3 linked regions of the Homo sapiens genome follow. The protein of the gene in region 1 interacts with the protein of each later gene in a pairwise test. Each region holds a gene or a part of one and is shown on either strand. Other genes may lie near its edges.

What was found.
Region 2: the proteins of GAS7 (region 1) and MYBPC2 interact in a two-hybrid assay, tested with the Homo sapiens proteins (one large-scale study listed by BioGRID and IntAct).
Region 3: the proteins of GAS7 (region 1) and PKNOX1 interact in a two-hybrid assay, tested with the Homo sapiens proteins (one large-scale study listed by BioGRID and IntAct).

What each region holds. Positions count from the first base shown.
Region 1 is NC_000017.11:9,919,107-9,922,606, forward strand, and holds part of GAS7 (growth arrest-specific protein 7), read right to left. Parts: intron 600-3,500; coding exon 520-599; intron 1-519. UniProt on the Homo sapiens protein: May play a role in promoting maturation and morphological differentiation of cerebellar neurons.
Region 2 is NC_000019.10:50,439,392-50,442,891, forward strand, and holds part of MYBPC2 (myosin-binding protein C, fast-type), read left to right. Parts: intron 1-1,488; coding exon 1,489-1,685; intron 1,686-2,789; coding exon 2,790-2,922; intron 2,923-3,500. UniProt on the Homo sapiens protein: Thick filament-associated protein located in the crossbridge region of vertebrate striated muscle a bands. In vitro it binds MHC, F-actin and native thin filaments, and modifies the activity of actin-activated myosin ATPase.
Region 3 is NC_000021.9:42,977,562-42,981,061, forward strand, and holds part of PKNOX1 (homeobox protein PKNOX1), read left to right. Parts: intron 1-3,500. UniProt on the Homo sapiens protein: Activates transcription in the presence of PBX1A and HOXA1.

The DNA.
Region 1 (3,500 bases):
ATGCTGCCCCTTTACAAGAAATACTCAAGAGCATCATCGGCCCTGCCGCCTGTTGTTCACCCTTGGTGAGAGGCCTCCCCCACCCCACTGCCTAGCTCCATCCTCACCCATCCATCCACTTTGCAAGGATCTCCTACCAAGGACCTGCAACTCGTGTGTGTGCATGTGTGGGGCGGTCCTCTCTTCCTATAGCTTGGCTATTTTTCCTAAAGAGGCCCTTGTCCACTTAGTTGAGGAGAGTCCTCAGTTGACCCTGACCTCTCAGGGGACAGCCCAAGAAGGATGTAGCCATATCCAACCCAACCCTGCCCACATCCACACAGCTAGGAAGCGCTGGAGCAGAGATCTGAATCCACATAAGCTGGCTCACATTGAGGTTTCGACCCCAACACTGAAGTAGATTTGATGACCATCTCCAGGGTCACTCCACCCCATCATCCCCGCGCCCACCAACAACCACCAGGGGCTGCTCTGTGTCAGCCTCTGTACTGCCATGTCCACACATCCCTGCCCGCTTACCAATGTGGTGGTCACCATCTCTTCAAACCATTTGGACTGGGCCTGGTTGTAGAGATCCACACAGCGCATGAGGTCGTCTCCTGGAAAAAGACCACAGTCACCATCATGAAGCATCCTATCCTCACCATGACTCTGTGCCCCACCCTGAGCCCCACAGCCAAGCCTTCTCCTCCCCCTGGGGTCATGGTGGCCGCTGGAAAGCTGGAAAAGGGATGGCAGTAGGAAGAAGAAGAAAGCAGAGCCAGGGAAGGAAGGGGGCAACCCAGCCCCATGAGAACCCAGCTCAGGTGTCCCCCTGAAGCCTGACCCCAGATACCAAGGATTCAGGATGGTGGTTCTCATTTTGTGTGTGTGTGTGTGTGTGTGTGTGTGTGTGTGTGTGTGTGTGTGTCTAGGGTATTCCTAGGACCCCCAATCCTATCATGAGCCCAAGAAATGCTTCCCTCTCTAAAGATGGCAGTTTTATTTTACACTGGGGAGTCCAGATTGGTTAAAACATGTCACACACAATTTGGTGCTAAGAATAATTAAGGAAGATAAATTTGCAGATCATGTAAGTGTGTGTGTGTGTGTGTGTGCATGAACACACTGCAAGATGTCCTTCTGAAACACAAAAGAACGCATCTGTAGTCACAGTCTAAAACATGCACTGGAGGAGCACACCCCAGCTTCAGGAGAGTGGCTACCTTGGGAAACAGAGAAAGGGTGAGTGGGCAGGAATCAGCTCCTTCTATTGCATTTTATGTCATCACAGAAAGATCCGAGGCAAACATAACTATTCAATCTTTAGGACTACTCTATTACTTTGTTATCATATGTATGTTTAGAACATTTTGTAATTAGAAAGAAAACACACTGCGAAGTAATTGCAAACATTACTAAGCGTACCAGCACCTTGGAACCTTGCTACACAAATCACAGTCTGTGGGCCAGTGGCACTTGTATGCCCTGGGGTCGGCTAGAAATTCAGAAACCCAGGACAGATCCGAGACCTACTGAATCAGAGACTGCATGTTTATGAGACGCTCTGGTAATGTGTGTGCACGTGGCAGGCAGAGCAGCACAGCTCTCATGCACGGCTTTGTCTCAGCGTAGCTTCCTCATCCTCACAGGGCTCCAGCAAGAGGAAGGCATCATGGTGTTTGCTCACGATGGAAAAAGCTCATGAGTGAACCCCAAAGTGAAGTAATTTTCTCTAGTAATTCTAGAAGCAGAATGCTAGAGTAGAATTTAGTAATTCGAGTAGAGTCAAAGTGACTCCTATAGTATCATCATTGTGGCTCATAGGTACTCTGATAGGAAAGTCAAAGAGAACAGGGAAGGTTATGTCTCCAGGCCCCAGGCCTAGCTGCGAACCATACCCCTAGCTATGCCACACACCAGACGCGAGTGTGCCTTGAATAACAGAGCCCACACCAAGGCATTTATTCATTTTGTTCTTGGTCCAAGGCCAATGACTGGACCCTTGATCCCAAGAGGCACTGAACCGGAGAGAAGAAAGTGGATGCTGCACCGTAAAATGCATTTTTTTCTTTTTTTTTTTTTTTTTGAGACGGAGTCTGGCTCTGTCACCCAGGCTGGAGTGCAGTGGCGCAATCTCGGCTCACTGCAACCTCCACCTCCCGGGTTCAAGTGATTCTTCTGCCTCAGCCTCCCGAGTAGCTGGTACCACAGGCATGCGCCACCACCCCTGGCTAGTTTTTGTATTTTTAGTAGAGATGGGGTTTCACCATATCGGCCAGGCTAGTCTCGAACTCCTGACCTTGTGATCCGCCCGCCTCAGCCTCCGAAATGCAAATGCATTTCTAGCAAGAGCTCCTGCCTGGCCGAGGAGGAGGGCGGCGTGCTGCTCTGTACACTGTGAAACTCCCTGAGCCCTGTGTGTCAATGCTGATTTTGAGAAATTGCTTCAGGAACTTCCACAGCATTGGGAAACAGAGTAGGTGAAGGGGGCTGTACCTTCTCTCTATGGCAGCCCAAGAGCTTGAAATTGGAACTTTTTAGAACAGTATTGGTTAAGACCATGGATTGTGGGACAAGAATGCCTTTGTTGGCCAGGCGCGGTGCCTCACGCCTGTAATCCCAGCACTTTGGGAGGCCGAGGCGGGTGGATCACGAGGTCAGGACATCGAGACCATCCTGGCTAACACGGTGAAACCCCGTCTCTACTAAAAATATAAAAAATTAGCCAGGCGTGGTGGCAGGCGCCTGTAGTCCCAGCTACTCGGGAGGCTGAGGCAGGAGAATGGCATGAACCAGGGAGGCGGAGCTTGCAGTGAGCAGAGATCGCACCACTGCACTCCAGCCTGGGCGACAGAGCAAGACTCCATCTCAAAAAAAAAAAAAAAAAAGCCTTTGTTGTCATCCCAGCTCAACTACTTATTAGCTATGTAATCGTAGACAAGTCGGTTATCCTGCGCTTGCCTCCGTGTCTTCATCTGTAAAATGGAGATAACGATTGTACCTTTACCAAGTTGTTATGAGGAATAAATATGTCAAAATATGTAAAGCACTTAGAATAGAGATGGGCGTAGAGAGCCAAATATTAATATGGGCTATGGTGGTGATGAAGATGATGATGATGATGATGATGATGATGATGATCCCTGAGGATCTGATGTCTTTCCTTCTAGTAGCCTTGGAAAAGATGAGGAAGAGGGAGGAAAGGAACAGAAGGAAAGAACAGGTGGCATTTCCTGAGCAACAGGCTGTCCAGCAAAATGGCGACAAGCAGAGTCTCTGGAATGAGAGGAGACTGAATTGTGGCTTCGCCGCTCCACCACTGTGGACCTCATGGAAGGTTCTCATTTTCTCTGCCATCAGTCTTCTCATTTGTAAAGGGTATAAAAATACCTCCCTGCAGGGGGACTGTGCTGATCAAAAGAGACAATGCTCTAAAGCATGGAGGCTGGCCACAGCGAGTGCTCAGAAGAGGCGGTATTTTTCAGAGTTAGGTCTAAGGACTGTCACTTTCGTCACAA
Region 2 (3,500 bases), on another chromosome or scaffold:
ATATTCATGTCCCCACATTCACCTCCACATCTATCCTCTCTTTGTTCCTTTCCCTTCCTTCCTTCCCTCCCAAGCTCCATCCATGCATTCACTCACTCTCTCACCCATCAACCATCTTCTGAGGCCTCCCGTCTACTAGGTCCTGGGCTGAGATCCATGCATTCACTCACTCTCTCACCCATCAACCATCTTCTGAGGCCTCCCGTCTACTAGGTCCTGGGCTGAGATCCATGCATTCACTCACTCTCTCACCCATCAACCATCTTCTGAGGCCTCCCGTCTACTAGGTCCTGGGCTGAGATCCAGGGAGAGAGAACAGTCTGACTGGGTCCCTGATGTGAGATCACTCATTGCCTTGGGAAATGGGTCTTGTCCAACAGACATAGATACAGACTGAGACTATTTGGTGTGATTTTAGAGAGGGTCCCACCGGGGCCTGTGAGAGCCCAGAGCACGAGCAACTCACTGTCTTGTAGGACACGGAATGCCTCAGGGAGAAGGGAACTTTGGTGCTAGGTCTTGTAGGATGAAGAGGAGTCTGGGAGGAAGAGAAGGTAGGGAGAGGTCATGAAGGTAGGGAAACATTTTGTGCAAAGGCTGGGAAGCAGGAGAGAGCCTGAAGTGTTCAGCAAAAGTCAAGCAGCTTGGTTCAGGTGACTTTGGGGGGAGTGACGGAAGTAGCTGGGGTGTGATGGCCAGGCGGAGGGCTGGGGCTTCCTCCTGAGGGCAGTGGGGAGCCACAGAAGAGTTCTGAACATGAAAGGGAGAACCACTGATGTGGGTGTCAGAAATACCCCACAGGATAAAAGAGGACAAATAGGGTGCAATGTATGCTGCTTGGGTGATGGGTGTACCAAAATCTCACAAATCACTACCAAACAGCTTACTCATGTAACCAAACACCACCTGTTTCCCAATAACCTGTGGAAATAAAATAAATAAATAAATAAATAAATAAATAAATAAATAAATGAAAAGAAATACTCTGCGGACCAGGCATGGTGGCTCACACCTGTAATCCCAGCACTTTGGGAGGCTGAGGCGGGTGGATCACTTAAGGTCAGGAATTCGAGACCAGCCTGTCCAACATGGCAAAACCCTGTTTCTACTAAAATACAAAAATTAGCCAGGGGTGGTGGCGTGAGCCTGTAGTCCCAGCTACTCGGGAGGCTGAGGCAGAAGAATCGCCTGAACCCAGGAGGTGGAGGTTGTAGTGAGCCGAGATCACGCCACTGCACTCCAGCCTGGGAGACAGAGTGAGAATCTGTCTCAAAAAAAAAAAAAACCAAAAAACCCAGTGGGGACTGTGCTGGGAAGAGGTCAGAAGACCCCAGGAGGAGGCTGGGGCAATGGACCAGGCGGGAAACAATAAGACCCCTAAAGGGAAGGTGGCTTGGGTGAGTCACAGAGCCAATGAGTGAAGAAGGCAGAGGGACATCCTCCCTTCCTCACTCCCTGATGGCCCCTGTCCGTTCCCCCACCCGCCAGGGAGGTGGTGGAGGAGGAGAAGAAGAAGAAAAAGAAAGATGACGATGACCTAGGCATCCCCCCGGAGATTTGGGAGCTCCTGAAAGGGGCAAAGAAGAGCGAGTACGAGAAAATCGCCTTCCAGTATGGCATCACCGACCTCCGGGGCATGCTGAAGCGGCTGAAAAAGGCTAAGGTCGAGGTCAAGAAGAGTGCAGGTCAGCCCTGGTCTGGGGGGAGCTGGGCCCTGCACACAAGGGACCCCTAGCCTTGTGGGTGTCTAATGATTGGACCCTGGACCTATCTTTTCGAGGTCCCAATGAGGTAGGAGGCAAGACCCAACTCTAGCGGTGGGCCTCGGACACCAGACCAAATTGAGGACTAGCTAAAACAGGGACAGGGTGGAAGCAGCTTTCCATAAGACATGCCCACCAGTGTGCCATGTCAGTTTACCATGGCCATGGCAACAGCCAGGAGTTACTGCCCCTTTCCATGGCAATGACCAGACCACCCAAAAGTTACCACCCTTTTCCTAGCAATTTCTGTATAACCTGCTCCTTAATCTCTAGGTAATTAAAAGTGGGTATCAATCTGACTGCAGATCTGCCCTGAGCCGTTGCTCTCTGTCTCTGGGGTAGCCCTGTTCCGCAGGAGCAGTCAGAGGGCTGTAACACTGCCACCTCAATAAAGCTGTTTTCAGGCTGGGTGCAGTGGCTCACGCCTGTAATCTCAGCACTTTGGGAGGCTGAGGTGCGCAGATCACCTGACGTCAGGAGTTCGAGACCAGCCTGGCTAACATGGTGAAACCCCATCTCTACTAAAAATACAAAAGTCAGCCGGGCATGGTGGTGTGCACCTGTAATCCCAGCAACTTGGGAGGCTGAGGCAGGAGAATCGCTTAAGCCAGGGAGGCAGAGGTTGTGGTGAGCTGAGATTACGCTGTGGCACTCCAGCCTGGGGAACAGAGTGAGACTCTGTCTCAAAAAAATAAAATAAAATAAAAAATAAAATAAAATAAAATAAAATAAAATAAATAAATAAAAATAAAGCTGTTTTCTTCTACCTAACACTGGCTTGCCCTTGACTTCTTTCCTGGGTGAAGCCGATAACCCTTGCAGGCTAAGCCCCACTTTGGGGTCCCCTGCCCTGCATCACCACCAGAGAAGTTCTCAAGGATCTCTAAGTTCATAGGAGGCCCCCTGACTTCCTCACTTTGACCTTGGAGAGCCCAGGGCCTGGGGAGGGAGATGTGGTGCCTCTGGGGATGACCAGGGGAATGAGGACCACACGCCTCCATCCCCTTTGCATGCCTCAATCTTCAGCATTCACAAAGAAGCTGGATCCAGCCTACCAAGTGGACAGAGGCAACAAGATCAAGTTGATGGTAGAGATCAGCGACCCAGACCTGACCCTCAAGTGGTTCAAGAACGGCCAGGAGATCAAACCAAGCAGCAAGTATGTGTGGGGTGGGCAGTCCCTGCACCGGGGAGATCCCCGTCCAGAGAGAACGCCCGGAGACAAGGCCTATCACTCTTAACCAGAAAGGGCATATTCACCCCTATATGAAGAGTACAGGCCGGGCACAGTGGCTCACGCCTGTAATCCTAGCACTTTGGGAGGCCGAGGCGGGTGGATCACCTAAGGTCAGGGGTTCGAGACCAGCCTGGCTAACATGGTGAAACCCCATTTCTACTAAAAATACAAAAAATTAGCCGGGTGTGGTGGCACATGTCTGTAGTGCCTGTAATCCCAGCTACTTGGGAGGCTGAGGCAGGAGGATCGCTTGAACCCAGGAGGCAAGAGGTTGCGGTTGCGGTGAGCTGAGATCTCGCCACTGCACTCCAGCCTGGGCGACAGAGTGAGACCCTGTTAACAACAACAACAACAAACACATCACAAGACAACCTTTTTTAAATTAATTACCTAATTTTGTTTTGAGACAGAGTTTCGCTCTTGTTGCCCAGGCTGGAGTGCAATGGCATGATCTCAGTTCACTGCAACCTCTGCCTCCCAGGTTCAAGAGATTCTCCTGC
Region 3 (3,500 bases), on another chromosome or scaffold:
TTTGAGATGGATTTTCACTCTTGTTGCCCAAGCTGGAGAGCAATGGCGTGATCTCGGCTCACTGCAACCTCCACCTCCCGGGTTCAAGCGATTCTCCTGCCTCAGCCTCCGTAGTAGCTGGGAGTACAGGCAGCTGCCACCACATACAGCTAATTTTTTGTATTTTTAGTAGAGACGGGCTCTACTAAATGTTAGCTAGGCTGGGACTTCTGACCTCAGGTGATCCACCTGCCTCAGCCTCTCAAAGTGCTGGGATTACAGGGGTGAGCTGCCGTGCCTGGCTCCAACTTTTCTTCTGCATCTTCCTCACCTCTCTCAGCCTTCATAGAATTGAAGAAAACTTGGGCCTGGTTCTCGATTAGGCTTCAGTTTAAGGGAATGTTGTGGCTGGTTTGATCTAATCAGACCACTCATACTTTCCACATATCACCAATAAGGCTGTTTCACTTTCTTTCCCTCCCTCCCTCTTTTTTTGAGACTATTGCCCAGGTTGGAGTGCAGTGGTATGATCATGGCTCACTGCAACCTCTGCCTCCTGGGTGCAAGCAATTCTCTTGCCTCAACCTCCCGAGTAGCTGGGATAACAGGTGTGCAGCATGTGTCCAGCTAATTTTTGTATTATTAGTAGAGGTAAGGTTTCACCATGTTGACCAGGCTGGTCTCGAACTCCTGACCTCAAGTGATCCGCCCGCCTTGGCCTCCCAAAGTGTTGGGATTACAGGTGTGAGCCAACGGACCTGGCCATTTTCTTATTCATGTGTTCACTGGAGTAGCACTTTTTAATTGCCTTTAAGTTTTCCTTTGTTCTGAGAGGTGATTTAAAATTTCAAAAATTTGTGTATGTATTTTTTTAATTTCAAAAATTGGAAAGAAACTTCTGCTTTGCATTTACAACTTGGCTAACTTGTTTTTTTCTTTTCTTTTCTTTTTTTTTTTTTTTTTGAGATGGAGTCGCTCTGTCGCCCAGGCTAGAGTGCAGTGGCGCGATCTTGGCTCACTGCAACCTCTGCCTCCCGGGTTCAAGTGATTCTCTTGCCTCAGCCTACCAAGTAGTTGGGACTACAGACGTGAGCCACCACGCCCGGCTAATTTTTGTATTTTTAGTAGAGACAGGGTTTCGCCGTATTGGCCAGGCTGGTCTTGAACTCCTGACCTCAAATAATCCACCCACCTTGGCCTCCCAGAGTACTGGGATTACAGGCATGAGCCACCGCACCCAGCCCTTTTTTGTTTTTTTTTAAAGAGATGAAGTCTCCCTATGTTATCCAGGCAGGTCTCAAACTCCTGGCCTCAAGTGGTCCTCCTGCCTCAGCCTCAGGCATGATCCACTGTTCCTGGCCTTGGCTATGTTTTTGAGAGACAGGGTCTCATTCTGTTGCTCAGGTTGGGATGCAGTGGTGAGATCATAGCTCACTGCACTCTTGACCTCTTGGGCTAAAGTGGTTCTCCCACCTCAGCCCCCTGAGTAACTGGGACTACAGGGATGTGCCAGCATGCCCAGCTAATTTTGAAAAAGTTTTGTAGAAGTGAGGTCTCATTATGTTGCCTCGGCTGTCTCTTAAGTTCCTTTCCAGAATGGTGAATCCTTTCAAGCCGCCTTCCTGCCTCGTCCTTCCGAAGTGTTGGGATTACCCATATGAATCACTGTTCCTGACCTGAACATCAAAGATCACTGATCACAGATCCCCGTAACAGACATAATAATGACAAAGTTTGAAATAGTGAAGAATTACCAAAATGTAACACAGACACAAAGTGAGCTCCTGTTTTTGGAAAATTGGCACCAATAGGCTTGCTTTCTTCATACAGGGTTGCCACAGATCTTCAACTTGTGAAAAACATAGTACCTGCTGAGTGCAATAAAGCAAAACACAATAAAAGGTAAAATGAGGTGCTTATAGCCAGGCGCAGTGGCTGACGCCTGTAATCCCAGCACTTTGGGAGGCCGAGGCGGGTGGATCACGAGGTCAGGAGATCGAGACCATCCTGGCTAACACTGTGAAACCCCGTCTCTACTAAATATACAAAGAATTAGCTGGGCGTAGTGGCGGGCACCTGTATTCTCAGCCACTTGGGAGGCTAAGGCAGGAGAATGGCGTGAACCCAGGGGGCGGAGCTTGCAGTGAGCCGAGATCGCGCCACTGCACTCCAGCCTGGGTGACACAGCGAGACTCCATCTCAGAAAAAAAGAAAAAAGAAAAATGAGGTGCTTATAGTCTGTTGAATCTAAAATGCAGCAGTGTGTTATACCACTACAGATGCTCCCAGTGCCTTCTGGCACGCTGCTTTCTTACCCCATCAGTGAAGGATGCTTTTCACTTCAGACATTTAAAAGTGTGCCTTAGAATTGATGAAACATGGTCAGTGAAGTATGACTTGTTTCAAAGATTAACCTTCTGCGCTTATGATCTAAGTGCCAGCAGGTTCTGTGGTAATGATACTGAGTACAATGCATTTTGTTGGGATTCCTGTACTCTATATGTAGTTAACGTTTCTCTGGCAGTAACTTTAGAAAAGTACTACTTGTGAGGCCAGGTGCGGTGGCTCACACCTGTAATCCTAGCGCTTTGGGAGGCCGAGGTGGGTGGATTGCCTGAGGTCAGGAGTTTGAGACCAGCCTGGCCAAGATGGGGCAACCCCTGTCTCTACTAAAAATGCAAAATTAGCTGGGTGTGGTGGCAGGAGCCTGTATCCCCAGCTACTCGGGAGGCTGAGGCAGGAGAATCACTTGAACCAGGAGGTGGAGGTTGCAGTGAGCTGAGATCGCTCCAGTGCACTTCAGGCTGGGCGACAGAGCAAGACTCCATGTCCGAAAAAAGAGAAAAAAAAATACTACTTGTAAATAGCAGAAATAGAAAGGTGCTACTTATGAGAAGTAACATCCTATTTGCGGCTTACACTTTTGTTGCAAATTGTTAAAAGTGTCTGAAACTGTTTAGAAGGACAGCCTGAAACTGCTAAAGTGATGCAAAGTATAGACTCTGGTGGGAGAGGGGGCGTCTTAAATTTTCACGTTTGCTTGGCCTCTGGGGGCCTCTTAACAGCACTTTAAAGGAAATAAATAGATGAAGAAGAGAACAAATTATTTTGAAATACAGTTATTAAAATACTGTATTGAACCAAATTGGTGATAGTCCCATTTATTAGCTTAGTAACCGGATTGAGCTGTGGCTCTGGTAATTCATTTGGGAGTAGTGACGAGATTTTTTGTGACACTCTAATGCTTTGGAAAATACCTGTTGCTGTTCCTGCTAAAACTCCAGGGCTTATTGTCTGCCTTTGTAATTGAAGGAGTGCTACATTTCAGCTAGAAGTTTTTGCCTTTTATCATTCATGTTCACAAATACCAAGTTGATTTACTCTCAGCCTATCCATTTGTAGGAATATATGGTGTCCTTTCTTTACTTCCTCAAATGATTATATTGATGACAAAAGAGACAAGGAAATAAAAACGGCACAGATAGGGGAACCCAAAGCCTAACAGTGTGTGTCCTTGGAGG